Linked DNA regions of Homo sapiens. The protein of the gene in region 1 interacts with the protein of each later gene in a pairwise test. Each region holds a gene or a part of one and is shown in the gene's direction. Other genes may lie near its edges.

Region 1 (16,241 bases):
CATGGTTTCTCTATGTTGGCCAGGCTGGCTTCGAACTCCCAACCTCAGGTGATCTGCTGCCTCGGCCTCCCAAAGTGCTGGGATTACAGGCTTCAGCCACCGTGCCCGGCCATAAACGCACATTTCTAGTAGATTTCTTAATATTTGAAATTATTTTGCTTGGCTTTGGTCGGATCTGATTCATTGGCATTATCATTACCTTCCAATGTATCTGCAAAAGGACTCAAGTTAGAAGTGTAACTATGCTATTTTATTGCTGTTTACATGTGCCTGCATTATTACTGTTATCTTCAAACTGAGATTATTTTGTTAAGAAACTTTAAACTAGGGTTAGTTAAATGTTAAGAAACATTTTGCTAGGGTTAGTTTAGTTAAAACTAGGTAATATAATCCATAAATCCACTGATTCCTGCACATACTAACTTCAGTATGTCTCAATATGTTGAATAAGTGAAAATGTAAGGACCTCACTTTTTTTTTTTTTGAGACACAGAGTCTCGCTCTGTCACCCAGGCTGGAGTGCAGTGGCGCAGTCTTGGCTCACTGCAACGTCCATCTCCCGGGTTCAAGCGATTCTCCTGCCTCAGCCTCCCGAGTAGCTGGGATTACAGGCGTGTGCCACTGCACCCGGCTAATTTTTGTATTTTTAGTAGAGACGGGATTTCACCATGTTGGTCAGGCTGGTCTCAAACTCCTGACCTTGTGATCCGCCCGCCTCAGCCTCCCAAAGTGCTAGGATTACAGGCGTGAGTCACTGCACCCGGCCCAGGCCCTCACTTTTAACTGCTCCATGGTGTGGGCCTCCTCACGTTCCCTTATGGCACCTTCTATATCCTGACTCAAGCCTGTTCAACATATGTGCAAACTAAGGAGCTGGCCAGTCCGTTGTATTCAATACCAGTGAAGCTTAACTTCTTTGTCGTGTCTCCAGGCCCATGGATTCAAAAGCTCAAAGGGGTCTGCCTAAGCATGGAATGACTTTTTAAATTTGAGAAAAATACCCATACCTACAAACACTTGCATACTGGGGAGTTAGTCATTGAAATCCTGAAGTCTCAGATTGAGAATACCTTGTCTAAAGACATTTTACGGCCTCAGGGAAAAATTTCATTTGGTGAGAGATGCATCAGGATTTATCCACCATATATACTTTTTTAAGGTATGCACTTTAGGGCTAATCCAGGCTTCTGGCCCTGTGTGTCACTTGTAGGCACTATAGGAAGTCATTTCCTAGCCCCACCTGAACCTTCTTGAACATCTTTTTTTTTTTTTTTTTTGAGACAGAGTCTCACACTGTCACCCGGGCTGGAGTGCAGTAGCACTATCTCGGCTCACTGCAACCTCTGCCTTCCCAGGTTCAAGTGATTCTCCTGCCTCAGCCTCCTGAGTAGCTGAGATTACAGGCGCCTGCCACCATGCCTGGCTTATTTTTTGTATTTTTGGTACAGATGGGGTTTCACTATGTTGGCCAGGCTGGTCTCGAACACCTGACCTTGTGATTCCAAAGTGCTGGGATTACAGGCGTGAGCCACCACGCCTGGCCTCTTGAACACCTTAAAGATCTCCTCTAGGACATCCCACATAAAACGTGATGTATGTTAGTATTTCTCCTAACTAGAGAAAAGCAGTTACCATCTTGTTTAATTCTCTGTTCTCTCAATAGTCCTTAAAAGACAATTCAGTTTCCTTCTGCCATGAGTTAAATCACTCTTTGCTCTATTGAAGTCAACAGGATACAAACTACATCTTGATGGCAGAGGGAGGGTGTCGGGAGTGGTTTCTGTTCTGGTCTCCCTTCCTTGTCCGTGTGGTAAGCCATTTCCACACAGCTTACACTGATATCCTCCATTGATGCCCAGGTTCCTTTCACCTTGAGTCAATCCGAATCTTTCTGCTCCTCAGTTCCAGGGAATTTTTGTTGAAATAACTGATCTGGCCCACAACAATCTCATGTAATTTAACTTCATCAATATATTCATTTCAAGTTCTCACAGTATCTCCCATGATAGTTTGCCCAAACCTTATACAATTTCTTTGAACAGCTTGTCCTGTTAGCCCTACTTTATCCTGGGACAAATGCAGCAGACAGAGGGCAGAGTATGGGATCTGCAGTCAGAAAAAGCAGAGTTTAAATTCAGCCTCAGTAACAATGTCTGCAGCTTTCAGTTACGCTCTTACACACTCTGGATCTCGATTTTCTTATCTCTACAATGGGAACAAAGATATTTGCCATGTCTGACTCTCATCAATGTTAGACTATTTTTTTCCCTAATTAAAAAAGTTAATATCTTTTTTATTTTTTTATTTTATATATTTTTTTGAGACGGAGGCTTGCTGTTGCCAGGCTGGAATGCAATGACACGATCTCAGCTCACTACAACCTCTGCCTCCCGGGTTCAAGCTATTCTCCTGCCTCAGCCTCCTGAGTAGCTGGGACTACAGGCGCACACCACCACGCCCAGGTAATTTTTGTGTTTTCGGTAGAGATGGGGTTTCACTATGTTGGCCAGGATGGTCTCAATCTCTTGACCTCATGATCCACCCACCTTGGCCTCCCACAGTGCTGGGATTAACAGGCGTGAACCACTGGGCCCAGCCAAAAAGTTAATATCTTTTAGTTTGTAAGAAATAGACTTGATCCTGCAGTTTTATTTTGTTTTCTCCCTCCCACCTTTCATCCTTTCTTTCTTTCTTCTTTTTTTCCCACAAGGTTCTTTTGCTCTATTGCTTTTACTTTTTTTTAAACCTCTTCGAACAACTCAGAATTTTTATTTTAAAATATCTTTCAGATTGCTCTATTATCTCTGAATTTTGGAGTGCATGTGCTTTCATTTTTTTAGTAACTAGTGATTTTCATTTATAATAGATTTTTAAAAATTTATTTTTAGTTTTAATTCATGAATAATAATTATATATTTATGGGGTATAATGTGACGTTTTGACATAGGTATACATTGTAAAAGTTTAAATCAAGTTAATACATTCATCACCTCACCTACTTATTTTTTATGGTGAGAACATTTAAGATCTACTCTTTTAGTGATTTTGAAATATACTTTGTTTGTTTGTTTGTTTGTTTGTTTGTTTTGAGACGGAGTCTCTCTGTGTCCCCCAGGCTGGAGTGCAGTGGCGCAATCTCGGTTCACTGCAAGCTCCGCCTCCTGGGTTCATGCCATTCTCCTACCTCAGCCTCTAGAGTTGCTGGGACTACAGGCACCTGCCACCACGCCTGGCTAATATTTTGTATTTTTAGTAGAGATGGGGTTTCACCATGTTAGCCAGGATGGTCTTGATCTCCTGACCTTGTGATCCGCCCGCCTCAGCCTCCCAAAGTGTTGGGATTACAGGTGTAAGCCACCGCGCCCGGCCCGAGGTATGCATTATTATTAACTACGGTTACCACACTGTGCAATAGATTGCTAAAACTTACTCCTCTTGTTTAACTGGAACTTTTTGTACCCTTTGATCAACACCTCTCTATTCCCCGTTTTCTCTGTACGAGGATTTGTTTTTGGTGTGGCTTGTAACTTTTGACTTTAAGCTCCTCTTTAGTGGAGATTGTTTTCTGTGAGTGTTCCATGTGGCCTAGATTATGTGAGTACCCAGAAGCCTTGTTATTCAAAAATCAATCTCTACTCAAGAACATTTTTCAGTAATTGTCACTTTTCTCCCCTTCCATACAAATTTTTCCTCCCTACTGGATCATTCTAATCAGTGTGTAAGCATGCTGTAAGATCTCCTAATTTGTCTCATTTTGCTATTTCTTTTTATAGCAAAACTTCTTGAATGACTTGTCTATATTTGCTGCTCTAATTCTTCTCTTCTCGTTCCTTATTGAACTTATTCCATTCAGGATTTCTCTACTCCCAACCACTCTTATAAGGTCAAGGTCACCAGTGATTTTATACTCCTGTTGCTCAGTCAATTCTTAATCCTCATCTTACATTTGATCATGGCATTTGATTAGTTGATGATTCTTTCTTTCTTCCTTTCTTTCTTTCTGACAGAGTTTCGCTCTTGTTGCCCAGGCTAGAGTGCAATGGTGTGATCTAGGCTCACTGCAACCTCTGCCTCCTGGGCTCAAGCGATTATGGGTTTATACCTTTTCTTAAGGTGCCAGTTTGTATATTACAGGCGTGCACCTCCACGCCCAGCTAATTTTGTATTTTTAGTAGAGACAGGTTTTCTCCATGTTGGTTAGGCTGGTCTCGAAGTGCAGACCTCAGGTGATCTGCCCATGTCGGCCTCCCAAAGTGCTAGGATTACAGGCGTGAACCACCACACCCAGCAATTCCTTCTTTCTTTGAACACTTTATGCAGTTGGCTTCCCGGATACCACTCTCTGTTTTCCTGCTACCTCAGTGGCTCCTCAGTTTCTTTCTCCTTTAATAGATTTTTCTTATTACCCTGACCCTATATGTTGGCGTGGTCCAGGGCTTGGTCTTTATAGTGCTTCTCTTTATTGTCACTCATTGTTTCATGGCCTAAACGTTTATGGGTGGGCCTGGTGGCTCGCACCTGTAATTCCAGCACTTTGGGAGACTGAGGTGGGTGGATCACCTGAGGTCAGGAATTTGAGACCAGCCTGGCCAACATGATGAAACTTCATCTCTGCTAAAAATACAAAAAGTAGCTGGGCACGGTGGCAAGCATGTGTAATCCCAGCTACTCAGGAGGCTGAGGCAGGAGAATCACTTAAACCTGGAGTCGGAGGTTGCAGTGAGCTGAGATTCTGGCACTACATTGGGCAACAGAGCAAGATTCTGTCTCAAACAACAACAACAACAAAAACTTTTGCAATTTCCTCTGCCTGGAGGTTCCCACAGATACACGCAAGGCTTGCGTCTTAATTAACTTCCGGTCTGGATTCAAGCCTGTTTTATCTGTTAGTCCTTCCCTGACCATCCTATATAACTTGCACTCCATCTCTAACAGTACCTCTCCTCCTTACCCCAATGTAATTTTCTTCACAACACCTATAATTACCACTTGTGCACTTATTTATTGTCCAGCTCACCCTACAAAATATAAGTCTTGGGAGGGCTGGGACTTTGTGTGTTTAGTTCATTCTTGCATATATAGCTATTGGAAGAGTGCTGGGCACATCATCTGGTAAATATTTATTGAATGAGTAAGTGAATAATAGAAATAGATGACACCTTTTCATTATTTCCTAAGCTGAGGTAGATATCTCCCTATTTTAAAAAATATTTTGATTGTTCAGCCTGTTTCGAAATAAGTGTTTATGCCTTTTCCTAAGGTGCCAGTTTATAAAGAAATTATTAAACTTCAAAGTGTCATTTTCATATCAGGAACCATCTACCAGGATTAGAGTTCTCAAACTGAGGTTTGTGGGTTCCAAGGATGGGTTTCAAGGCTGTGTTAGCTCCCTGGATTTGAGTGCAAAGTGTTGTATGTAGATGTGTATGTGCATTTTTCTTGGGAAAAATTTTACCTTCCATCAGATTCACAAAGGAGTCAGAACCCAATTAATGGTTTTGAATTACTGTTATCTTCCTTGGGTGTTGATCAGCTAAAAGCGAACACATTGAAGATAAAACTCCTATAATCTTCCCCTCTAAACCACCTTATCTCTTGACTTTCTTAGAAGCAGAGCACATTGATGTTGGAAGCAATACCCAATGAAGGTGTCCCTCTAAATGTGCCTGGTAAATTGTTAGCCATGCTGTCCTCAGGAACTCAAAGCAGCGCCATCAATCACATGAATGTTAGAAACGTCCAGCTAGGTGCCATGGCTCATGCCTGTAATCCCAGCACTTTGGGAGGCCAAGGTGGGTGGATCACTTGAGGTCACGAGTTCGAGACCAGCCTGGCCAACATGGTGAAACCCCGTCTCCACCAAAAATACAAAAAAAAAAAAAAAAAAAAAAAAAGACTAGAAACTTCCACCTATGTCAGGCTGAAACAGTAGTTTCACACATAGGATCTTGTTCAGACCCTGGGACTTAAGAGAACATGTCGAATCCCTTTTCCGCTGGTCACTTTTCAGGTACATGAAGATGTAATCCCATCCCCGCATCAAGCTTTATTTCTCCAGAGGAGGATCTTTAATTCTTGTAAACATGGGACAGGTACAGGACATGTTATGATAATGACAGGTACAGGACATGTTATGATAATGACAGGTACAGGACATGTTATGATAATGACAGGTACAGGACATGTTATGATAATGACAGGTACAGGACATGTTATGATAATGACAGGTACAGGACATGTTATGATAATGACAGCTCTTCTTTAAATTTTTATTTTTTATTTATTTTATTTCCATAGGTTATTGGGGAACATGGCAGCTTTTTTTGAATACCCTCCTCTTTGCCAGTTGCCCAAGGTGGAACACCCAAACTTTGACATGATACTTCCATTAATGCAACTTAGTATCACAAGTTGATGTCGTGGCCCAGCACAGGATGGCCTGGAAACCGGCAACACTGGACGCTGGGGAAAGGGTAAGAAGGTCTTGACCATTACAAATGGTGTGGAACTGAGCCGAGGGAGGGATAGTGAGAAGGGAGAGAGGGTGAGGTGTCTGAGAGACAATGAGGTCAAATCAGAGGATTCAGCCATTGTTGGCGTGTGGGAAAGGGAAGGAGAAGGGAAGAGTCAGGGATGACATTTGTTGAGAGAGAGAGAGAGAAGAGAGAGAGACGCAGGTGGAAAGAGGATGGCACCACATTGGACTAGCCCCAACGGAATGGGGAGAAGTGGGAGAGGACCCAGGGGATGCAGAGCTGATGAGAGTGGGAGAACCAAGACAGAGGAAGAAGGTTGGGGCAAATCAAGTGTCTCAGGGAGGCCCAGTGAGGCAAGAACGGAAAGGAGAAAGGCGGCGGTTAAGAATCAGGGATAATGGCAGAGCGTTGCAGCTCTGCGGGTGGGACTGGGCGGAAGGGTTTGGGAGAGACAAAGAAATGATCTTTGAAGGCCTCGCAGTGCTTGGCCGAGTGCCTGGCACAGAATAGGTGCGCAATAAATGACGGGTGAGAAGTGAAGGAACTCAGGAACAGTGATTAGTGAGTGAGTGACGGAAGGAACGGAGGATGGCGTTGGCTCGGGAACCTCGCTGCCATGTCGGTGGAGGCTCCTGGGCTGCAACGCCAGAGAGAGGCGGGGCGTCCCCGACGGCCAATAGGAGCTTCGGTATCAGCTCCGCCCCCGCCCCCTAGCTCCGCCCGGTGCCGCACGTCGTTCGCCTGCCGCCTGAGGCGCGCGCAGCCACCCAGCTCCCGGAAGTGCGCCCGGAGCCGGCGCCGCGGGCCGAGGTGAGCGCGCTTGCGGGGCGGTCCCGGCCTCCGGCCGCTCGGGGTCAGGCCTTGCGCTATCTGCGTCCGCACCTGACTCAGCTGGGCACCCCGGAGCTACGGAGGGGCCAGCGGGCTCCCTTGCCCATGCGTCTGGGAGCGCGCGGGGGACGTGGCGAGTGCGGGGCCGGGGCAGCCATGGCTGGGAGTGGACCGTGGGTGCGGGGGGATGTGTGAACCCCGTCCCGGCTCTGCATTCCTGCGCCTCTGCGCCCCGCGGGACCGGCCGGGTCTCTGCACTGGGACCGAAAACGGGCTCCTCCCCGCTGTCTTCCCCTAAGGGCTGAAAATGAGTCTCTGGAAGAGGAAACCCGATGGGATGATGCCTGGAGTCTCTCCCTCTCTCATCAGAGTGCAGTCGGCATTTGGGGGGCGCATGGTGGAGAATACATATCCAATGAGCAGCGCTGCCCTGGCCTCGAGCACTAAATGCCAGTTCCCCTAGCTGCTTGTGACAACCAGAAAACGCCCCAACAAATCACCAGACGTTGGCAGTTCTCCCCAAAGCAAAGGCTTTAGAGCTTCCTGGGTTAATCTGGCTGCCACTTGTGAGCCTCGGAGGTTCCTGATCTGTACACCAGGGTAATTGTGGGAATTGGAAATACATGAACCGAGCTTAATAATGAGCCGATACGTAGTAGGTGCTTAACAAATGGTTACTTATATATGTAACCATGTATGTAACCACTTGTGTATATTACACCTAGAATGCACTTTTAAAAATTCATTCTATTTGTTAAAGGTTTAATAACAGGTATAACAGACAACCTTATTTTTTTTTCATAACTAATGGGGGCAGTTCCTCATGAGGTTATCGGAATATAAACTCTATTAAATTTTTAATACTATATAAAGTAATTTAATTTTGAATAATCGAGACATTTTTCTTACACACTACCTGGGAGTATAATATTACTAACAAAAGATTTAAGTATTTTATAAAATCTGTAGTTTTTCCAAAATGTCATTTCTCTTAAATATTATCTAAACTGCTATCTTAATTTAGGAAACAGATAAATTGCAGTAAGTTTACAGGTCGGTATCTTGCTATCTAAAATCTTGCCGCTTGTTATTTGAAACTCTTGAGCCAAATAGGTTGGATTTACAAAGCAAGGTATTTTTAAAAATATATTTATTCGTTTTTTAAGATGTTATTTGAAACTGTAGGTTTACCTCTGAGCTAAAGCTGCTTTTCAGGTGGTTTGATAATGCTGTCATTGTCACTCAGTATGAAAACATATTTTAATTTCCTTTGTGATTTTTTTCTTTGACTATGGGTTAAGAGCATTATTTAGTAATTTCCATAAATTGGGATTTTCTAGTTATTGTTATTGATTTCTACTTTAATTGCACTATGATCAGAGAATATATTTGAACCCAGGAAGCTCTAAAGTTTTCCATTTGACCTTTCTGGTTTTGTTTCTCTTGTGTTCCTTTTCTATCAGATATTGGGTTTTTGAGTGTTTTTTGGTATTGCTTTAATGGCTTTTTAGCAATACCACTTTGCGTAATATTTTTAGAGCTAATTTTAAGATATCAGTCATTTGAAAATTATGCATATGGTCTGTTTTGATGAATACTCTTTGCACTTGTAATGAATGTATACTCTGCAGTTCTTGGGTCTAGTGTTCTGAAAATGTCAATTAGAGCAAGTCGGTTGATAGTGTTCAGATTTTTTGACTTCACTGACTCTTTTTTTTTTTTTTTTTGAGATGGAGTCTCCCTCTGTCGCCCAGGCTGGAGTGCAGTGGTACGATCTTGACTCACTGCAACTTCCGCCTCCCAGGTTCAGGCTGTTCTCCTACCTCAGCCTCCTGAGTTGCTGGGATTACAGGTGCGCACCACCATGCCCAGCTAATTTTTGTATTTTTAGTAGAGATGGGGTTTTACTGCGTTGGCCAGGCTGGTCTCAAACTCTTGACCACAGGTGGTCCTCCCGCCTAGGGCTTCCAAAGTGCTGGGATTGCAGGCGTGACCCACCGCGCCTGGCCTGGGTTTCTTTTTTTTTTTCTTGCAGTGGTGTGATCTCGGCTCACTGCAACCTCTGCCCCCTTGGGTTCAAGCAATTCTCCTGCCTCACTCAGCCTCCCTGGTAGCTGGGATTACAGGCATTCACCACCACGCCCGGTTAATTTTTGTATTTTTAGTAGAGATGGGGTTTTGCCATGTTGGACAGGCTGGTCTTGAACTCCTGACCTCAAATGATCCCCCTGCCTTGGACGCCCAGAATGCTAGGATTACAGGCGTGAGCCACTGCGCTCAGACCTGGGTTTCTTTTTAAGCAAAAAATAAATTTAATGAGGACCACATAAAAAACATTTGGTATTGGATTACGGTTGCAAGGGTCCATTTATACAAGGATTTTCATCTGCCTCTGTGACTCCTGCGACTGCAAGACCAACCCTTCCTTCTCCTTCTCCTGTTCCTTGTCCTCTTCAGGCTACTCAGTGTGAAGATGATGAAGGTGACCACCTTTATGGTGATTCACTTCCACTTAGTGAATAGTAAATGTAGTTTCTCTTCCTTATAATTTTCTTTTTCTTTTTTTTTTGAGACGGAGTCTCGCTCTGTCGCCCAGGTTGGAGTGCAGTGGCACGATCTCAGCTCACTGCAAGCTCTGCCTCCCAGGTTCATGCCATTCTCCTGCCTCAGCCTCCCGAGTAGCTGGGATCACAGGCGCCCGCCACCACGCCTGGCTAATTTTTTGTATTTTTAGTAGAGAAGGGGTTTCACCGTGTTAGCCAGGATGGTCTCGATCTCCTGACCTTGTGATCCAGCCACCTCAGCCTCCCAAAGTGCTGGGATTACAGGCGTGAGCCACCTGGCCTGGCCTCTTCCTTATAATTTTCTTAATAATATTTTGTCTAACTTACTTTATCACAAAAATACAGTAACATGCAAAATGTATGTTAATCAACTATTTAAGGCATCAGTCAATAGACTGCTAAGCTTTTGGGGAATCAGAAGTTATATATGGATTTTCTACTGTGTGGGGGGTTGGCGCCCCTATCTCCTGCATTATTCAATGGTCAACTGTAATTCTTTTGACTTCGCTTTTTCCTTTCTCAGGCCCTTGAAAAAAAATTGTTTTTCTTTTTTAGTTTTTAAATGATTTTCCAATGTCGGATAAATTATTTTGGTGAAACGGTAAGGATGAAGACATTGTTTCCTACACCTTAAGAAATAAGCAGCTACAAAAAGCTAGAGTATTGTACTGATCTCTGATTAAGCCAGATCCTCAAGTGATGGGGTATCTTTTTTTAAAAATTGCTGTGATTAGTCTTAGGGAGAAATGATGACCACCAAATTCTTCATAACATTTAAGGATTTACCCAGTAATCCTATATTGTGATTACTTGCAAGAAAGTTAACTAGAAGTAGTGGATGATCCTTTTTAGAATAATATTATTTGCGATTTAATATTTCTCTTTCTACTGTCTTAGTTGTGATCTTCTAAAATTTGATACCATTCACATAAAATAGTGATTATTTATATCAACACCATAGGAGTATTTTCAAGGTAGTTAGTCTTCTCAACCCTCTTTTTTTTTTTTTTTTTTTTTTTTGTGAGACGGAGTCTCTCTCTGTCCCCCAGGCTGGAGTGCAGTGGCGCGATCTTGGCTCACTGCAAGCTCCACCTCCTGGGTTCACCCCATTCTTCTGCCTCAGCCTCCTGAGTAGCTGGGACTACAGGTGCCCGCCACCATGCCCGGCTAATTTTTTGTATTTTTTTTTAGTAGAGACGGGGTTTCACCGTGTTAACCAGGATGGTTTCGATCTCCTGACCACGTGATCCACCTGCCTCGGCCTCCCAAAGTGCTGGGATTACAGGCGTGAGCCACCATGCCCAGCCTTCTCACCCTCTTTAACCCCAAGGTTGAAAGTGTCAGGTATGATACTTGTTTTTTTCATAAATTCTCAAATAGACCTATTTTAATATGGCACTCAAAAGACCTCTCTTGGAAGTTTCATTACACCTTTTTGGTATACTTTTGGAAGTACTTTTGGTACCTTTTGGAAGACTTAACTTGTTCTCTTTAACCTCCTATTTATTACAGAAGCATGTAGGCATTAGCTTTTATTCCTAGGGCATTAATATCTTTTTCCAGCTTTATTTTTTAGTATGCAGATATATAGATGAAGATGTAGAAGTGTTTTGTAGAAGAGCCGTTTACCTGGAAACCTATAGTGAAAAAGTTTCGTATGGTGCATTTTATTCTTCATTTTGTCTGGACATTTGAAGACCAAGAAAGAACATTATAAAATGGGCAGGGAAATGGTGGCTGTTTAGATACAGTATCAGTAGTTTGCTTTGTGGCTTCAAGTTTATAATCTTTCAAAATAGAATCGTGTATCCATTGAGCAATTTCAAAAGCTCCATAGTTGACCCCATGGCTTCTCGGGTAGGGCATGTGAATTTGTTCTTTCTGAAAATGTGTCCCCTTCCTCTGTGTAGCACTCAATCTCATTCCCTTTTTAGTGTCCTGGTGAAGACCTAGTTCTTGCCGGAGACAATTCCACTGCAGAAGCACTTTACTTAAAAGGACTTGCCAGGCTGGACAATGCCCGTTGACTTGGGGCAGGCCCTAGGCCTGCTGCCATCGCTGGCGAAGGCCGAGGACTCCCAGTTCTCAGAATCAGATGCTGCCCTTCAAGAGGAACTCTCCAGCCCTGAGACCGCACGCCAGCTTTTCAGGCAGTTCCGTTACCAGGTGATGTCTGGGCCTCATGAGACCTTGAAGCAACTTCGGAAGCTCTGTTTCCAGTGGCTACAGCCAGAGGTTCACACCAAAGAGCAGATCCTAGAGATCCTCATGTTGGAGCAGTTTCTGACCATCCTGCCTGGGGAGATCCAGATGTGGGTGCGGAAACAGTGTCCAGGAAGTGGAGAAGAGGCAGTGACCCTTGTGGAAAGCTTGAAGGGGGACCCCCAGAGACTGTGGCAATGGGTAAGCAGAGGGTATTATGATCTGCGAGTGAAACACAGGGCTCCTCTCTGGTCCCATCAGGTGTGTTGTCTTTTTTCTGATACCACTTATGACACAAAATGGGTGGGGCTTTTCACACCAATGGCCAATTCTGTGATTCTCTAACACCAGTACAGTGTCCAGCAATTCAGTTCTGAAGCTAACTCTGGAGGTTCAGGGCTCAATCCAAGACTGCTCCTGTTCTCAGATGCCAGTCACAAGTCCCAGGGGCCACCTGTACTTCTGACAAATTGGCTATAAATTCGGAGGTTCCCACAGTCTTCTCTTCAAGTTTGATAATTAGTTAGAATGACTTACAGAACTCAGGGAAGGATTTTACTTCCTGTTACTGACTTACTCTAAAGGATACAACTCATTAACAGCCAGAGAGAAGAGCTGCATAGAGCAAGGTGTGGGGGAAAGAGCGTGGAGCTTCCATGCTTCTCCTGGCGTGCTACGTTACCAGTACCTCCATGAGGTCACCAACCTGGAAGCTTCCTGAACCTCATGGTTTAGGGATTTTTATGGAGGCTTCACTGCTTTGGCACACTTGATACAGTCATTTGCCGTTGGTGATTGAGTATCTCCAGCTGCCCTCCCCTCCTCAGAAGCTGGGTGGAGATACTGAAAGTTCCAACCTTTTAATCTCAAGGTTGGTTCCTCTGGCAACCAGCCCCCATCCTGAAGCTATCTAGGAGCCTAGCATAAACTCAGGTGTGGTTGAGAAGGGCTCCTTATGAATAACAAAGACTCTTCTTTCACCTGTCCCTCAAGAAATTACCAGGGTTTTAGGAGCTCTGCGGGAATGGGAACTGGGGACAAAGACTAAATGTGTATTTCTTATTATACCACAGCTGGGTTCCCCCATACCTCACGTAATTCTAACACTCTCTGACTCTCAACACTCTTTAGCTATTGAGGATTGAGGGTAAAGTCTCCCAGCGCATTCCACCTTTAGACTAGAATGTTTGAGAAGTTATTTAAAAGATGCCTGAGTTTTCATTGGTGGCGCATATCCAGTAGAAGCACGTTAGTGGCATGTCTTGAAGGTCTCCCACGCCTGATTCGGGCCTCAGCTTTTGGTGTCTTTTGGGACGTTTCTTTCCCTGGTTCCTGCTGGACTAGAAATAAAAGCTGGTTTTCTCTTTCTCCACATCCTTAGAAATTGTCTTATGATCTGTTGTAGAGAGTAAGCTTTGTGTCTTTTAGAGATCCTTACTCTGGATTCTTCAGTAATTACTAATTAATATATGGTCTCTAGATCAGTATCCAGGTTCTAGGACAGGACATCTTATCAGAGAAGATGGAATCTCCAAGCTGCCAAGTGGGGGAAGTGGAGCCCCATCTTGAAGTGGTGCCTCAGGAGTTGGGACTTGAGAATTCATCCTCAGGGCCTGGGGAGCTTCTGAGCCACATCGTGAAAGAGGAATCTGACACAGAAGCAGAACTAGGTGAGGATGGTGCTGTGTGGTGTTCTCTTGGAGAGATTTTGGGATTGTGATTAGTAGGCCTAAGTGAGTTGAAATGGTATGCTGCTCAGATTGGCGTATCCCTGAGAGGTTTGCAAACAGGTTAGACCTAAATAAACCGCTCTTGTTTGGAGAGTCAAAGTCTGTGTTTTAAACTGCTTTATGACTGGGCCAGACCATTTGGATTTTGGCTCTGAGGAAGGAGGTGGGAGAACATATGGGTGAGACTGGAATGTTGGAGGGGGTTGGAGTGTGTCAGGGAGATAAACACAAGTCTTGAAATATAGATGGCAGTACAGGTATTGTTCAGGTATTGTTCTGATTTGTGAAGATTGTTATCTGCGCCCTCTGGGGAGTGGTTAAGGAAGACATCCAGATTCTGAAAACTTCCTCTCCTCACTTCAGCCCTGGCTGCCTCCCAGCCTGCCCGACTGGAGGAAAGGCTGATCAGAGACCAGGACCTCGGAGCCTCACTGCTCCCAGCAGCACCTCAGGTGAGCTGACGTACAAAAGCGATGAAAAGGAAACTTTTTACCTTTTATAATCTCATCCTCCTGCTTCTCTTCACCCCATTCTCCATCCTGAGGAAACCTCTGATCTGCTGTCTGTCACCATATGTTAGTTTACTTTTTCTAGAGTTTTGTAAAAATAGAATCATGCCAAATGTACTCTTATCTTTGTTCTTATGCATATAATGTGTATATATATACATATATATATATTTGCTTATTTCAGTGTATTCTCATTTTTTAAAACAATTTGATTTTGATGTGCCTTGGAGTCATTTTCACATTTCATGTAATTGGGATTTATTGAGTTTCCTAGCTCTGTGGGTGTATGGTTTTCACTAAACTTGGAAAATTTTTGGCCATTATTTCTAAAGCATTTTTTTTTCTGTCTCGCTTATTTCTCCTCTCCTTTAAGGACTTGGGAAATAATACCTGTGGAATGTGTATAATGATAATGTATATACATGTATCAGAGCTCTTCAAGTTGTCCCACAGCTTACTGATTGTTTTTCTGTTTTTGAAGTCTTGGTGTTTTATTTTGGACAATTTCTGTATGTCTTAAAGTTCATTAATCTTTTCTTTTATAGTATCTGATCTGCTGTTAATCTCATCCAGTATATTTTTCATTCTGTTATTGAAGTCTTGGTCTTTTATTTTGGACAATTTCTGTTTGTCTTCAAGTTCATTAATCTTTTCTTTTATAGTATCTGATCTGCTGTTAATCTCATCCAGTATATTTTTCATTCTGTTTTTGAAGTCTTGGTGTTTCATTTAGGACAGTTTCTATTTTGATGTCTTTAAGTTCATTAGTCTTTTCATCTCACAGCATCTAATCTGCTGTTAATCTCTTCCAGTATATTTTTCATTTTAGATGAATTTTTCACCTCTAGAAGTTTGATTTGGGGCTTTATTGTATCTTTCATGTCTATACTTAATGTGTTCAATTTTTTCTCTAGCTTCTTGAACATATGGAATATAGTTGTATTTGTATTAATATCCTTATCTACTGATTACTACCTGCATTGGTTCTGGGTCAGTTTTGATCAATGATTATTCTCATTATGAGATGTATTTTCCCACTTCTTTGTATGCCTGGTAATCTTTGTCTTTTTCGTTTGTTTTGAGACAGGGTTTCACTTTGTCTCCCAGGCTAGAGTGCAGTTGTGCAGTCATAGCTCACTGCAGCCTTGACCTCCCGGGCTCAAACCATACTCCTGCCTCAGCCTCCTGAGTAGCTAGAACTACAGGCATGTGCCACAATGCTTGGCTAATTTTTTTTTTTTTTTTTGAGACAGGGTCTTGCTGTGTTGCCTAGGCTGGAGTGCAGTGGCGCGATCTCAGCTCACTACAACCTCCGACTTCTTGGTTCAAGCAATTCTCCTGCCTCAGTCTCCTGAGTAGCTGGGATTACAGGCGTGTGCCACCATGCCTGACTAATTTTTGTATTTTTAGTAGAGATGGGGTTTCACCATGTTGACCAGGCTGGTCTCGAACTCCTGACCTCAAGTGATCCACCCAGCTGGGTCTCCCAGAGTGCTGGGATTACAGGCGGGAGCCACCATGCCCGGCCTGCTTGGCTAATTTTTAAATTTTTGTGTGTCTTACTATGTTGCCCGTGCCTGGTAATCTTTGATTGGGTATCACATTGGTGGGGTGCTATATATTTTTGTATTACTATAAATGTTCTTGAACTTTGCTATGGGGTGCAGTTATTTGGACACAGTTTATTACATGGCACCAGAGAAACATTTAGTCGAGGATTATTCTTTCCATGCTAAGGCACTTCCCTTCTGAGTATTCTGAGTAATCTGATGCCCCTTCATATACCAGGTTTTCCACTTTGCCTGGTGGAAATACGAACTGTTTCCAGCACTGTGTGAACTCAGGGGATTGTTCCCTCTGATTCTTTTGGGTGGTTATTTTCCAGACTTTGCGGGGACGCTCTGTAGATCTCTGGAGCTTTCTCTTTGT
Region 2 (16,840 bases), on another chromosome or scaffold:
TTCAAAATGAAAATAGGAATATTGTATTGCCTCTACTGTCTATTTTAAAGACCATTTTCTCAATTCATTTTTTTCTCTAAGAAACTAATATTTACTGGTTTTTTTTTTTTTGAATATAAAAAGCAGGCCAGGCGCAGTGGCTCACGCCTATAATCCCAGCACTTTGGGAGGCTGAGGCGGGCGGATCACGACGTCAGGAGATTGAGACCATCCTGGCTAACGTGGTGAAACCCCGTCTCTACTAAAAATACAAAAAATTAGCTGGGCGTGGTGGCGGACGCCTGTAGTCCCAGCTACTTGGGAGGCTGAGGCAGGAGAATGGCATGAACCCGGGAGGCAGAGCTTGCAGTGAGCCAAGATAGTGCCACTGCACTCCAGCCTGGGCGACAGAGCAAGACTCCGTCTCAAAAAATAATAATAATTAAAAAAAAAAGCAAAAATGTTCATGGCAGAAATTTTCAAAAATACATAACGGTATAGATGAGAAAGTAAAATTAGTTGATCTTTATAAATAAAATATTTTAGTTGAATGTAAGAGATGAAAAAAACTGAAGTGACACTGAAGGAATTTGTATAATTGGTTTCTTCGTACCAAAATCAGTATTTGTTCTTAAGAGATTTCTTTAAAATTAAAAGAAAGTAGACATTAAAAGGCTTTGGGAAGCCAAGGCAGGCGGATCACAAGGTCGGGAGTTTGAGACCAGCCTGGCCAATATGGTGAAACCCTGTCTCTACTAAAAATACTAAAATTAGGCAGGCATGGTGGCGGGTTCCTGTAGCCCCAGCTACCTGGGAGGCTGAGGCGGGAGAATCGCTTGAACCTGGGAGGCGGAGGTTGCAGTGAGCCAAGATTGTGCCACTACACTCCAGCCTGGGTGACAAAGCAAGACTCTGTCTAAACAAAAAAACAAAACAAAATTATTTAGCTAATTTATTGTTTGGCAGTTTAAATTTCTAGGTAGTAAAATTGAGAGAGATTTAGAAAAAATGAGATGCTTCTACACACTACAATGGCTAAAATTGACAAGAGAAATAGTGAGGGTATAGAACAGCTGAAACCCTCATACATTGCTGATGGAAATGCAAAACAGTACACTCACTTGGGAAAAGTTTGGAAGTTTCTTCTAAATTTAAATATACACTTAACATAGAACCCAGAAATCTCACTCTTAGGAATTTACCCAGAAGAAATCAAAACACATTTACAGGAAGACTTGAATGCAAATGTACGTAAGTTTTATTTATAGTAGACAGAAACTGGAAAGAAACCAAATATCCATTAATATGTGAATGTATAAACAAATTGTGGACTATCCACACAATGAAATACTACTCAGCAATAAAAAGGAATGAACTGACACAAGTAACAACATAGATGAATCTTAAAAGCATTGTGCTACGTGCAAGAAGCCAGATATAGAAGACAGCATACTGTATGATGTTATTTATATGAAATTCCAGAAAAGACAAAATCATAGAAAGTAGTGCCTGAGATCAGGGAGAAGGGTAGGTGATTGACTTCAAAGGTATACAAAGGAGCATTGTGGGATGATAGAAATGTTCCATATCTTGGTTTTGGTGATGATTACATGACTCCACATTTGTTAAAACTCATCAAATTGCCCATTTAACATTGGTAGTTTTATTTTTTTAATAAGAGATTTCTATTTTAGTTGAATTTAACAGAAGAAAAAGAAACTGAGGTGAGACTGAATAAATTGCTGTATTATGTCTTTATGCTGAGAGATATCAGCTCCTAAGAGATTTCTCTAAAGTTAAAAGAAATTAATGTCAATGATACCTCCAGCTGATTGAAGTCCACCCTTTCCACACTGATGTGCAATTATATGGGAAAAAAATCAAGTCCATATATGTAGGTAACAATTTCTGATTTCTTTTTCTGTTCCATTGATCTGTTTGTCTTTCTTTGGCCCAAAGCAGAATGTCTCAGTTATTATAGTTTTTAAAATAGGTCCTGCTATCTGGTACAAGTCCTCCTTTGTTTTTCTTCTTCAAAAATGTTTTGTCACTCTCAGTCCTTTGCACTTCTTTTCTACATATACAACTATATAACCATGTTTAATGACTGCTTTTTTTAAAAAAAATACTTCTCAATTGTCATGTCTTTCATTTCTTTTTATCATCTTATTGCACTGGCTAGGATACCCAATACAATGCTGAATAATTAAAGTGATGATACTGGGCATTCTTGTCTTATTCTTAATCTCAAAGGAAATTTTTCAATATTTTAAGAAATCATTGCTTATTATATTTTCTGTAGACATTTTGTCGGTAGGTTTTAATAAGTATGTCTTCTTGTCCTAGTTTGCTAAGGAGTTGAATTTTATTAACTGCATTTTCTACATCTGTTGAGATTTTTCTTCAATTTGTTGATGTGGTGAGTTAAGTACTACAAGCAAGAATACTTGATAATGCTAAAAACTGCTATTCACAGTGACAATGTAACATGTAAGAGTATCTGTAGACATAGATATAACACCTAATATCTATGCTCGTAGCAACCACCTTTATAAAGCAGAAACTGCAGTGGATGCAACAAAATCAATAGAAATACAGTAATAATGACTTCAATGCAATGTTGTTGCAACGATCTTTTTACAGAAAACACACTTGCCACTTGATTTTTCCATATTTTTTATGTGATGAAATAGACATAGCACAAAATTTACTATCTTAATCATTTTTAAATTTTTTTTAAATTTTTTACAAGACGTGGTCTAGCTCTGTCACCCAGGCTGGAGTGCAGTGGCACAATCATAGCTCACTGCAGCCTCAAACTCCTTAGCACAGTAATCCTCCCACCTCAGCTTCCCAAAGTGCTGGCATTACAGGCATGAGATCCTGCACCTTGCCTATCTTAATCATTTTTAAGTGTACAGTTAAAGTGGCATTAACTATATTTATTAAGTACATTCATATTGTTCATATTCCACCACCACCACCACCACCACCACCACCACCACCACCACCACCACCACCATCCATCTTCAGAATTCTTTATCTTGCAAAACTGAAACTGTATGCTCATTGAACAATAACTCCCTATCCCCCTTAAAGCTGTCCCTGGCAACCACATTCTACTTTCTGTCTCTATGAATTTGACTACTCTGGGTACCTCATAAAAATAGAATCATTCAGTCTTTTTGTGGCTGGCTTAATTCACTTCATGTAATGTCCTCAAGTTTCATCCATGTTGTAGCACGTGGCAGAATTTGTTCTTTTTAAGACTGAATAATATTCCATTGTATGAGTATACCATATTTCGCTTATCCACTCATCTGTTGATAGACACTTGGATTGCTTCCACATTTTACCTAGTGTGAACAATACCGCTATGAACCTGGATGTGTAAATATCTCTTTAAGACCATGCTGTCAGATATTTTGGGTATATACTTAGAAGTGGAATTGCTGAATCAAATGGTTATTCTTAGTATTTGAAGAATTGTCACACCATGTGGTTGCACCATTTTACATTCTCACCAATAGTGCATAAAGATTCCAGTTTCTTCACATCCTCACCAACACTTATTTCTTCTTAATAGTTTCCATCCTACTGGAGTGGTGAGAAGTGGTATTTGATTGTAGTTTCAATTTGCATTTCCCTAATTATTAGTGACGTTGAGCATTTTTTCATGTTCTCATTGGCCATATGTGTATCTTCTTTAGAGAAAAGTCTATTCAAATCCTTTGCCCATTTCTGCATTGGATTGTTTTGCTTTATTGTTGTTTTTGGAAGTTCTTTATATAGTGTGGGTATTAATCCCTTATCAGATACATGACTTGTAAATATTCTGTTTTTTACTCTGATAGTGTCTTTTCATGCACAAAGGTTTTTAAATTCTTGTCAAGCCCAATTTGTGTAGTTTTTTCTTTTGTTGCCTGTGCCATTGATGTCATATTCACAAAATCATTGCCAAATTCAGTGTTGTTAAGCTTTTGCCATATGTTTTTTCCTAAGAGTTTGTAATTTTAGTTCTTATATTTAGGTCATGATCTATTTTAATTTTTGTATATGGTGTAAGAGACCAGCTTCATTCTTTTGTAGTGGATATCCAATTTTCCTAGCACCATTTGTTTAAAAAACTGTCTTTATGCCAATAACACACTTGTTTTGGGTAATGCAGCTTTGCAGTAAGTTTTGAAATCAGGAAGTGAGTCCTTAAACTTTGTTCTTTTTCCAAAATTGTTTTGGCTATTTGGGAGTCCTTGTAATTCCATATGAATTTGAGGATGGAGTTTTCTATTTCTGCAGAAACATCATTGGGATTTTGATAAGGATTCCATAGAATCTGAAGATTGATTTATATAATATTAACATCTAAACAATATTAAGTCTTCTAATCCATGTACATGAGATGTCTTTCCATTTATGTCTTCTTCAATTTCTTTTAGCAATGTTTTATAGTTTTAATTGTACACATCTTTTACTTTCTTGATTAATTCCTAAATATTTTTTTCTTTTTGATGTTACTGTAGATGGAATTGTTTTCTTTTCTTTCTTTTTTTTTTTTTTGAGACAGAGTCTTGCTCTGTTGCCCAGGCTGGAGTGCAGTGGTGCAAGGCACAATCTTGGCTCCCTGCAACCTCCACTTCCCAGGTTCAAGTGAGTCTCCTGCCTCACCCCCTGAGTAACTGGGATTACAGGTGCCTGCCACCACACCTGGCTAAATTTTGTATTTTTCGTAGATACAGGGTTTTGCCATGTTGGCCAGGCTGGTCTCGAACTCCTGACCTCAAGTGATCCATCCACCTTGGCCTCCAAAAATGTTGGGATTACAGGTGTGAGCCACTGTGCCTGGCTGGAATTGTTTTCTTAATTTCATTTTTGGATAGCTTCATTGTTAGTGAATAAAAATGCAACTGATTTTTGCATGTTGATTTCATATCCTCCTACCTTGCTGAATTCATTAGTTATAACCATTTTTTAAATGGAATCTTAAGAAGGACTGGTGTTGGTTCTTCCTTAAACATTTAGTAGAATTCATCAGTGAAGCCATCAGGTCCAGGGCTTTTCTTTGTCAAGAGGTTATTTTTAGATTACTGATTGAATCTCCTTACAAGTTACAGGTTGATATGGTTTGTGTGTGTCCTCACCCAAATCTCATCTTGAATTGTAGCTCCCATAATTCCCACATGTTGTGGGAGGGAGCCGGTGGGAGAAAAAACTGAATCATGGGGGCAGTTTCCCCCATACTGTTCTCATGGTAGTGACTAAGTCTCACAAAATCTTATGGTTTTATAAGGGATTTCCCCCTTCACTGTTCTCTCATTCTCTCTTGCCTGCTGCCATGTAAGACGTGCTGTTTGCCTTCTGCCATGATTATAAGGCCTCCCCATCCACGTGGAACTGTGAGTCCATTAAACCTCTTTTTTCTTAAAAACAAAAAAATTACCCAGTCTTGGGTACGTCTTTATTAGCAGTGTGAGAACAGACTAATACACACGTCTATTCATATTTTCTATTTCTTCATGATACAATCTTCGTAGGTTTTTTGTTTCTAGGCATTTGCTCATTTCATGTAGTTACTCCCATTTTTCAGCATACAATTGTTCATAGTACTCTCTTATAATCCTCTTTATTTCTGTAGAATTGATGGTAATGTTCCCATTTTCATTTCTGATTTTAGTAATCTGAGTCTTTTCCTTTTTCGTAGTCAATTTAGCTCAAGTTTTATTAACTTTTTTAATCTTTTTAAGAACCAACTTTTGGTTTTGTTGATTCCATTTTTGTTTTATCTGTGTTTTGATCTTTTATTATTTTCTTCCTCTGCTAGTTTTGTGTTTGCCATTTGTTCTTGATATTTAATGTTAATAAATGTTTTACTTTTTAATAAATCTGTTAATATTCCAACTGTTTTTTAATATAATTCCTTTCCTTTGTAATCCTATGTTTTAAAAACACTTGAAAACATTGAAACGACATAGGCTTCACCACACTTGTAAAGGTGCCATAGCACAAAAAAGGTTAAGAATCTTACTCCTATTTAGAAACCCCCTTCCCAAATCCCCAATTTCCATTACATATCCTGCTATTTTCCTCTTAGATCACTGGTTTTTAGACACATAAATATTCCTGTTATTCCTTGAACAGAACAAAGCAAAACTTCTAGTCAGGTGCGGTGGCTCATGCCTGTAGTCCTAGCACTTTGGGAGGCTGAGGTGGGCAGATGTCTTGAACCCAGGAGTTGGAGATCAGCCTGGACAACATGGGGAAACCCATCACCACAAAAAATACAAAAATTAGCTCACTGCCAACCACTTCCACCCAGAAGGGATTCTTGTGCCTCAGCCTCATGAGTAGCTGGGATTACAGGCACCCGCCACCACGCCCAGCTAATTTTTTGCATTTTTAGTAGAGACGGGGTTTTGCCATGTTGGCCAGGCTGTTATCAAACTCCTGTCCTCAGGTGATCTGCCCGCCTAGGCCTCCCAAAGTGCTGGGATTACAGGCATGAGCCACAGAGCCTGGCCATCTCCACTTTTTCTTATCCCCCAAAAGGATTAACATCCCTGGCTTTATGTAGAATAGTGTACGCTGCCACATCAGTGTTTGAGTCATTCCCCAGAGGAGAGGGGAATCCCCCCTCCATTTTTTTTTTTGCAACATCTTGTCTTCCCTTTGCTGTTGCTTCCCCCAACACACTTGGTTTTGTTCTATCCTGTACTTCAGATTTGTTTTTTGTTTTGTTTTTTTCATATTGAAAAGATGACATTGCTCCAAGAGGCAAAAATAAATGGGAACTGAAAAAAAAAAGCTTTTTATCTTATTTATTTAATCTTTTAATTCACCTGGAATGAATATTATGTCAATTGGGAGCTTAAATGCTTAAATGTATTTTTCCCCAAATGGTTAACTAATCCTCCCAATAGCACTCATTTGAATAATCTGTCCTTTCCCCATATATGTTACATGTCTTTTACAAAATACAGCCTATTTGAGGTATGTTTCTGGGCTTTTGTTCTATTGAGCTGTCCATTTGCTTACACCAGAAATGCCAGTTTATTTTTTTGTAGTCTTGCAATCTTTTAATTTCTACTAGTGCTTTTTAATTTAACCTTAATCCACTGTATTTGTATTTTTTTCAGTGGTGGTAAAAGGAAAAAATTAAAAATCTAATGAAAGCAGCCAAAAGCACACAATTTATGTCCTGTTAAGACTTCCGCATGTAAGTATCATGCTCCAAATATATTTTTCATCTTTACTTTTTATGACGGAAAGGGCTCAAGTACTTTGGGAAGCAAAACAGAATCGAGGGACGCCGAGAAGATACACAGCAGGCATGTAGGGTAGCGTGGTTGGCAACTGTTCTTACAAAATTTTAATTTGAATTATACGTAATGTACGTAATAAATTACTATTTGGATTTCCCTTTGGCATAAACAGCCAGGGAATATAACTAACATCAAAGATCCCAGACTCTCGACACAATATACTACTAATCGTAACACAATTCTAGAGGGTCAAAAAAGGTAGAGAAGTTTGGACCGTGGAACAGACCTGGTGGAATGTCGACACAAAGCGTTTCAGGGTAGACAAAGCCTACTCAGAACACCCTAAACGCGGAGTTTTGCTAAGTTGGGACGCTAAAAGGCAAGGGAATGACAGGACGTCCGCAGGCTAATTCGCCATTAAGAAACAGAACCGCGGCTTCTTCCACCTCCAGCGTCATCGGCCCCCAATTCGCTGTAACAAACGGATAGTGTCTCGCAGCATCAGACAACGGACTTGGAAATCAGTTTGCGACCACGCATCTGCGCCTTTTCTAGGAAAAGAGGAAGGCGGGTCCAACACTGGTAACGGCAGAAACATAGTTCACAAGGGCCACTGCAAACGCCCCGCCAGCAGCGGAACCGTTATCTCGCGAGACGACGGATCCCCATAAGGCACAAACCTAGCGCCAAGGTTGGCTGTCAAGGTAGATTCCAGGGTGTGGAAGTGGCTTTGTGGTGCCACCTCTAACCGCTCGGAGGTCAACCCCCATTCTACACCGAAAACTAGGCCTTGGCTGCTATGGAAGGACAGCGGCAAGAAAGCCACGCAACCCTAACACTCGCCCAGGCTCATTTCAACAATGGAGAGTACGCGGAGGCCGAGGCACTGTACTCCGCTTACATTCGCCGGTGCGCTTGCGCGGCCTCCAGCGACGAGAGTCCCGGGAGGTAACTATCGCGAGACCTGGGGCCGCGGCGACCCCGGGTGGAGGCGACGTTGGGGTTGTTTGGGCTCCTATCTTTGCCTCTGGAGCTCACGGTCGGCGCTTGTCATAACCCAGCACTAGGACTGAGCGGGCGGACGTTCGTCTTTCTAGAAAGGCCTAGGCGAGGCCTAGGACGAGGGCGGCGGAGAACGCGGGGAGAAGCCCACCCGTGAGGAGCCAGCTGCCGCGACGGTGCGGAGAGATTTCCGGGAACCAAGCCCTCTGCGCGATCCTCGGGCGCGGGCCGCCGCCTCTCACCCCGCCGTCTCTCCTTCCACGTTCCTCATTCGCACCCAGAGACTTAGGACAGATAGGAATTTTCCACTCGTGATTTTAGCTGGCGGGAAATCCGCGACCTGGGAAGGGAAGGGGTCACGGCTGCGTAGGGCCACAGTACCGCGACTCCCATCTCAGTGTCACGGCGCAGGCTCTTGGTGGTGTTTTTCACTTGTGAAAAACGTTTAAATATGTGGAAGAGAGCATAACGAACGTCTAGGTGTTTATCACTTGGCTTAAGCATTATCAGTTTACCTATTGTATTCATCCATGGATGTTTCAGAAGGAACCACCATGTCATCATCACATAGTTACTTAATATCAAGTCGTCAGTGTTGGAACCATTCTGATCGACTAATAAGGTGTTTTGTTCTTTGGTTCCCTTTTCGCAGTTAGTTCAAGTCAGGATACACATCAAGTCTTTTTAAGTCTCTTCTCCACCTTCCCCTCTTTATTTGTTGAGGAAACCGATTCTTGTGTCCTTTGAATTTCCGTGTTTTGGACTTGCTGACTGAATCTCTTCTGTCGTTTAATGTGGTCATCTGTCTCATATTGCTGTGAATTGGTGGTTAAACCTTGAGGTTTGATCCAATTGAATTCAGATTCAATATCATGGCAAGAATACTTTTTAGGTGGGTGTGTGTACTTTCACCAGGAAGCACATAACGATTCGCTGACTTTCTCTTTGTGATGTGAGCGGCTTCACCTGTTACTGTCTGCTTGCCCAAAGCATCTTTTCGGCTTGTGCCTGGATGTGTAGCATTTGTTTTTACTCCAAGTCTTGCCTCGACTGGGCTTGTTGATGGTATGGAGTGGATCAGGATGAGAAAAGAACAGAGGGGTTGGTTGAACAGCTTTTTGAATAGTTGTGAGTTGTCTGTTGTGGATTTGAGTTTTCTGGACAGGATGCCAGCTTGTCTTTTGTATGAGGCTTAACTAAACACTAAGGACTTGATTCTTACCCTGTTTGTTACGCTACATGGAATTAAACCAGAAAGAAAATTGCCTTCTCATTTCAATAACACACAAGAATAATAATAGAAGTTTCTGAACAGGCAATAAGATGATACCATCTACTTTCCTCAGTGCACCTCCCCCATAAAAAAGATAAGTAAACATAGAAAGCGAAACTATTCATGTTTCAAGCTCTAAGAGTAGACTTACCTAGTAGATTTTAAAAAGTATTTATCAGCATCAGGTATGCTGTTGCTGTCTAGTCTTGTTATTCTTCCTTCTTTGCACCTCTCAGCCTAAGAACACAAGTGTCTGTAGCATATATAATAGCTATGCCTTACCAGCACAGGAAAGACAGTTTGTCATAGCGCAGTAGAAGGGAGTTCATCATGCCTGAATTCCAGTCTTGGCACTGCCACATGGCTAATGTCTCAGCCTCAGTTTTTCATCTGTAAAATAAGCTTTTGATAAAATTCTAGGAACTCAAGGATTGAAACTGAATTCTGTCATTTCAACTTTTTCCCTTCAATTTATCTTTTGGAGCTTACATTTATTTTCTAAGTATTGGGTCACTAAATCATTTTGAAACAATATTTGCAATTTTTGAATGCCTTTCATTCTGAATGGTTTGTGACGTTTTCTTTTAATATCTAAAGTATAGCTTTAGTCATAAACCTAATTTCCAAAGTGTGTGTGTATATATATACACACACTTTATATATAAAAAATATATATACACACACTTTATATATATATAAAAAATATTTTTTTTTGCGAAAGTTAGCAAATCCTAAAAATTCACATTTGGGTTAGGTAACTTGAATGAATTCCATTATAATAAATACTATCATTACAAAAATTTTAATATTACAGAAAATTTCGGCTTCAACTGTTAGTCCATTTCTTTAAAATATGAAACAAAATTTCCACATGAAAACGATTTTAGAATTTGATTTAATGAGATCTAATTCTAAGTCTAACATTTTATGATTCTCTATATTACGAATATATAATTAGTATTAAAAACTTATAACAATAATTTTGAAACTTCGATTTAATGACTAAAACCTTACTGGCATCCTGAGATTGCTTTTTTCTTTAAACTCTCTACTGGGAGCAGTTCAACTAGTGTCATGTCACACATAGGTGAAGGGGAGTGGTACCGTCTTGTAATCTAGGTTTTAACGGGGGTGCTTAGTGGCATCCAGAAGTATCCCTACATCCAGTCTCCATCACAGCTCATAGAATAGACGTTTTCTAAAATTGCGACAGTTCCTCTCCATCGTTAGCAAACTTGGTTTGAAGGAGGCCCTTGGGCTGTGAGTGCCTCTTAGGGTAGCAGTAGTTACAGTCCCTGTCTGAAATCTCAAGGATCAAGATATTAAGAGAAGTAGCTTTTATTTACACTAACTGCCTTCACAGATACTTTCGGAGGACTATACTTTTTACTACGGGGTATTACAAAGAAGTGACAGATGAATTCTCTGTTTGGTTCTAATTTGAGAATTGCTTTGGGAAAAAAGAAAGGGAAACAGAATCATCCCTGACTCAGAGCAGAGGCACTAATGTTCTCTGTGCAGACTATTTGTCCTGTGCAGAGAAAGGTTCAAGGCAGCCAGGGGCTGTGACCTGTTGAGCTGGTGGCTGGTCAGAGCTACCTGGCTGTACAGCCCAGGAATGGCTGCTAATTTAAAGCTCTTTGGGCAACCTCTAGTTCCCTCAGGTGCAGAGCCAGTTCTGCACAAAGGACATCAAAATTGACTGGAGCCCTGAGGGGGTCTAAAGGAGCCCACCCTCCTAGCAGGAAGCCAGCCTGGCATTGGGGAGGATGCCAGCTGAGGCTGGAGGGAGGGCAACTCTGTCCCCAGAGATAACTTCCTGGGGATCGTAGCATGTTGAATTTTCACTTAGCGTTAACTTTAGTTTTTTATTGGTGGAAAATGATTTCAAATCTTATTGTTTTAAGATCACTTAAAAATTTGAGAATGAAATTGATTCACATTGTGACATATCCATAGCAAACTCGGGCTTTGGGCTGGCTTTCCCTCTTTGCTTAGTATTTATCTGTTCTGTCTTCTTTGCCCTGCTGGTGTGTGCTTAGAAAAATGAACAATCATTTTAATGTTATATTCAGCAGAACAAATTGGCAGTGAACACACTGTAAAGTTAGTATGCTTTTCAGGTTGACATTGCAGTGGTATAACCCTACAAAAGTAGATAACAGGGTTAAACAAAAATTGATTTTAGCTCTTTATTTGTACGTTTTTTCTTCAGCTTGGATTTTCAGTGTTGATGCTGCATGTTATAGGCTGTGAAGTTTGACAATACCCAAAAGAGAATGAAAGTGGAAATGAGAGGAATTTGGTAACACGGTGTTTTTAATGTGAACTTTTTGTTTAAAGCAAATGCAGCCCTGAGGATTTGGCTACTGCATATAACAACAGGGGGCAAATCAAGTACTTCAGGGTTGATTTTTATGAAGCCATGGATGACTACACATCTGCCATAGAAGTCCAACCCAATTTTGAAGTTCCATATTACAACAGAGGGTTGATACTGTATAGGCTGGGTAAGAATTTTTTTTCTTTTTGAGTTTTGTCATTGACTGTATTCTGTTATTTCAGAGCTTTCAAATGTTGTAAAACTAACGTGGTAATCAAATTTTAAAGTTCTGTGAAATTTAGGTTTAGAGCTTGGAACAAAGGAAGTGTCCCTGAGTTTATTTTAGGCTTTTGATAGGCGTTATAGATCACAGCAGAGCACTGGGGTGGGAATTGGACCTGGGCGCAGGAGCAGGGGTGACCCCATTACTTTGTGCTTGTGCATTCCCAGCTGTGAAATGAGGGCAATTCAGATGTTCACCTGTGAAACTTTTCTGAGTTAAAATCTTTGAAGACACACAAGACAATAGAAAGTGAAGTTTAGATTCTTGGATTAAAGGGACCATAGGTAGTGTTTCTTCATTTAAAGTGTCAAAAAGAAAATTAGTTCCCGTTTCTTAATTTTACTGCAATTATGTAAAACAGGTGATACAGTTTTATTAAAATTTTAAGATGATTGATAATATTTACCTGTTAAATCTCAATAAATAAACCCATAGCTAATTTTAGGTGTATTATTCCCTAAGGGCACACAAAATTACTTTGATATACACATCTCTATATTATTAAGATAAAAAGATTCCTTTACTAGAAGTGACTGAAAGCTCATAAATATAAAAGCAAAAGTACATGTATCAAAGCTTTTCCATGAATAATATATAGAAATACTCGGTTTCTTTTCTCTTTTCCATTTTTTGGGTTCTGGTACAGGATATTTTGATGATGCTTTGGAAGATTTCAAGAAGGTCTTAGACTTAAATCCTGGATTTCAAGATGCTACTTTGAGCTTAAAACAGACTATTCTAGACAAAGAAGAAAAACAAAGAAGAAATGTTGCAAAAAATTATTGATATTTTTAACTTAATGGAAGTATTGATTCATGATCCTTACATCTGCATCTAGTTATCAGTAATTTAGATATTGAGCTATTTTGATTTATATTTAAGAAATTAATACATTAGCACTGAAAGTTAAATAGTGTGTTTAAGGTAGTTAATTTCAGGTTGAATGGGTTTTTTTTAATGAAGTGTAAATAATACCAATGTATAAGTGTATATTATTATATTAAATATTATAGTAAAAAGGAATGTGTGGTATTTTCTTCAGCAAAACTATTTTTGTGATTTTTTTATTCTCAACTTTTTATTTAAAAAATGTTACATCTGCAGAAAAGTTGAAAGTATAATAAACTCTTCAGTTAAATTCATGAGTTGTTAATATTGTGCCACATTTGCTTTTTCTATTTAAATATATAACTTTTTGCTGAAACATTTGAAAATAAGGTGACGAGGTCACAGTACTTCGCCCCTAAATATTTCAGCCTACATTTTCTAAGATTGAGGACATCCTCCTTTATAACCACAATACCATTATAATACCTAATAAAATGAATAATTCTGTAATGTCAGCCATATCCAGCCCATATTCCAAAGTGTGTAGATTTTTATTTGGATCTAGAGCCAATCAGGTTTCAATTGCATTTTTTTTTTTTATGTTTCTCTCAGTTCTTTTAATCTAGTCCCCTGTCCATTTTCTTGCCCTAGCATTGGCTTTGAGAGAAAGGCTATTTTATATAGCTAGGCTAGAGAGACATAACATTTAGGCTTAAAAATAAACATGTCCTACAATTTGAAAGAGTTCAGCTTGAATTACACTTGATTTTCTCAAGTAATCATTGATAAAAATAGGTTAAGATTTAAATATTGAACATATTTTCTGTCTCTGGATAATGACAATTGTTATCAACATTTACTGAATACTATAAGCCAAGCACTGTTCAAATCTCCATAATAATTTGGTGATCAGGTAGGAATGTATAGAGAGGTGAGGAAATGACAAAAAGCACTTAGTAAGTATAAAGTTTAAAAATCTTTTATTTTGGTGCTGCCAACAATTAGGCCCTTATGAAGCTATCAAAAACCGGGAAGAACTTGAAGGGAAAACAGACTAACACCAGCCATATGCCATCTACATTTTTTGTATTTTATTGTTGTTTGGCTTCCAAAGATTCCCAAACTAGTTTATTACTGCTATGGAAAAGCTGTTCTGTGGTGGAAATTACCCGAATCAGGAGAAAGGAAAGTTTGCTTTGTGTCTTCAGAGGAAGGCGCAGGGTAACTTCTGTGGCCTCAGATGCAATCAGCAGCAGCAGCCTTAAAATGCTTTTTTTGTGTGTGTATGAGTAATCTCATGAAGCAGAAAAAGTAATTGCCCTGTTTGTAGCTCATAAGTAATATCTGGCAAAATACATGGAGAGTTTGGGCTGTAGGTAAGTGAATATTAAGAGGAAATTAAGTTTCATGGCCTAGAAACAAAGTCTCTGTTTCTGGAATTATTCATACTTTCCAAAACGGTTTATCTTATATTTGTTGGAAATCTAAAAAAATTTCTAAAATTGCATTAAAATGTAGAAAAATCCTTAGGAAAACTTTTTTTTTAAAAAAGCAAGTTTCCTAGACCTTGGGAGGGAAAGCTTTAAGCCATTCCACCCAGAGAAGCAAATGCTTAATGTTTAATTTTATTTTCTCTTGACTCATATTCTCTTTACTCTTGACTGGGATCAGATGGAATATGAAAAGGAAAAATTGTTTAACATTTTCATGTGGTTTGTTAGATTATATTCAAAATTTCTTCATCCTTTATCAGAAAAAAAAAAAAAAAAGTCACTTAAGTTCAGAATCAGCAGTTGCTGATTGTAGACCCAGGCACTCATTTTCTCTTGTCTTGTTACTGGAAATAAAGAATAATTCATTTACCTTGTTTAGCGTTGAAACTTTAGGCATTATTCAGATTCTAAGTTTCTGATTGACCAAATAATACCTTGGATATTTACCTTAAAATATATTCATTACCGTTCATATTTCCCACATTTCAGTATTCGTTATTTCCTTTTTCTACTAGAAAAGTAACTTATGTTTTCTAATTTTTTCCTTTGTAAAAACAAAAGAATTGTGGTTTGTTATAAGGTTTCTCTTTCACAAAGTGAGGTAAGATAGGATAAAATGGATTTAAGTTACTTTTGAGTTTAGAATATTACTCCTAACAGTAGTTGAAAAGTGTGGAGCTATTTGTTTTTTTCTGAAATTTGGAACTGAATAAAACCCTTTACTTTATGATAGCAAAGCAAATATCCAAGTTAGTCTTTAGTCATTATCTATTTGCTCTTTTGCTCTGTCATTTGCTCTTTTGCTCTGTCTTTTTTGGTTTTCTGTTTTTCACTGGCTTCTCTACCCTCTGAATCCTAAATGTAGCCTTGGCTCCCTGTCATTTTGTAGGTCTTAAATCTTTCTCCGTGGGCATGATATATTTCAACCCCACCTACCACTCAGCGTTTACACTGATTCTTGTCTCAATGTCTCCCTTTCTGCTAAGTCTAGCCCCCTTAAAAATTTAACTCAGAAGTAAACAGTTTGTATATAAACCGTAATAGCATGTTTTTTTTTTTTCTTTTTTGAGACAGGGTCTCACTCTGTTGCCCAGGCTGGATTGCAGTAGCTTGATGACAGCTCACTGCAGCCTTGACCTCCCTGGGCTCAGGTGATCCTCCCACCTCAGCCTCCTAAGTAGCTTGGACTATAGGCATGCGCCATCATGCCCAGCTAATTTTTGTATATTTTGTAGAGATAGGGTTTCACCACATTGTCTAGGCTGAGCATGAATGTTTACTGTGCTAGTTTTTTGTTTTATTGAGAATAATTCATATATCATATAGTTTACCCATTTAAAGTGTACAGTTCAATGGTTTGAAGGTATATTCAGAGTTGCTGCACCATTTTTTCAAGGTTTTTGGGTATACTGGTCTTGCATGCAAACTGCACTTAAAGTTACAACACAGAAAAAATTTTATGCAAATTAATGACTAAACATGAGAGTGTTTCAAAAACAACAGCTCATGCACAAAACAGATCTAAGAGTCCTAAAAAGTGCTGCTTCTGGCTTCATTCAAATATGTGGCACGATTCCACTTTGTCTCATGTGATGCTCTCTAACTAGAAATGTGTTGAGTAAATCAGACGGCTCATCTCTGCCTGAAATGGATGCTGAATTTAGTGTGTTTAGGTTAACATATTGCTACGCTAAACAAATTGTTGACAAATGTGTAATAGCTTTTCAAGAGCATAGTGAAAAGTTGACTGAATATTTGCTATTTACGCTAGGTGTGTAATTTTAACAATTTCTATATAAATTCACATTTTGGTGTTTTCTGTGTTTCTAAAAAATGTGACAGTAAATTGTGAGAACAGAATGCCCATAATTTAAAATGGCAGTTGGTAAAAGAGGGAGAGTGAGATTTGTTAAATTTCAAATCTAATGTTAAGGGACTTCAAATGACACCATTTCACTCTACAGAAAGGAAAGAAGGATGAGTATAGTCTAATTTCTGTTTTTGAAAAAACAAAGCAATTGATACAATTAAAACACATAGTTTATCCTTTTTAAAATCACAAGAAGGTAAAAGAACACGTCATGTAGCAAGACAAATTATAAAACAAGCAACCTGTAAGGAAGCCCCGAAACTGAAATTATGAATGTGGATATAAAAGTAAAATAGGAACACAACAGTGTAATCCCAGGTTTATATGTGTCATCACAAAATCATAAATATAGCAGTTTAGTGAAGGTCTTATTCTGCATAGAGGATGAAGCTAAGAAATTGAGTAACTTGTGCAAGGTTGTGTCCAAAATCCATATAAATATTTGAAACTGCAATGAGTATCAATGTTTTTGCTGTTGGCATCAACTCACAGCAGATATGTGGACTTTTTTTTTTTTTTTTGGTCCTGATAAA

What was found.
Region 2: the proteins of ZNF18 (region 1) and TTC32 interact in binary tests that used the Homo sapiens proteins (3 or more experiments, as listed by UniProt).

Annotation. Positions count from the first base shown.
Region 1 is NC_000017.11:11,988,476-12,004,716, reverse strand, and holds the start of ZNF18 (zinc finger protein 18), read left to right. Parts: upstream 1-7,241; 5' UTR 7,242-7,286; intron 7,287-7,344; exon of another isoform or gene 7,345-7,444; intron 7,445-7,606; exon of another isoform or gene 7,607-7,907; intron 7,908-9,037; exon of another isoform or gene 9,038-9,159; intron 9,160-9,190; exon of another isoform or gene 9,191-11,215; intron 11,216-11,805; 5' UTR 11,806-11,887; coding exon 11,888-12,274; intron 12,275-13,553; coding exon 13,554-13,743; intron 13,744-14,166; coding exon 14,167-14,255; intron 14,256-16,241. UniProt on the Homo sapiens protein: May be involved in transcriptional regulation.
Region 2 is NC_000002.12:19,893,049-19,909,888, reverse strand, and holds TTC32 (tetratricopeptide repeat protein 32), read left to right. Parts: upstream 1-7,905; 5' UTR 7,906-8,034; coding exon 8,035-8,183; intron 8,184-11,853; coding exon 11,854-12,020; intron 12,021-12,762; coding exon 12,763-12,902; 3' UTR 12,903-13,258; downstream 13,259-16,840.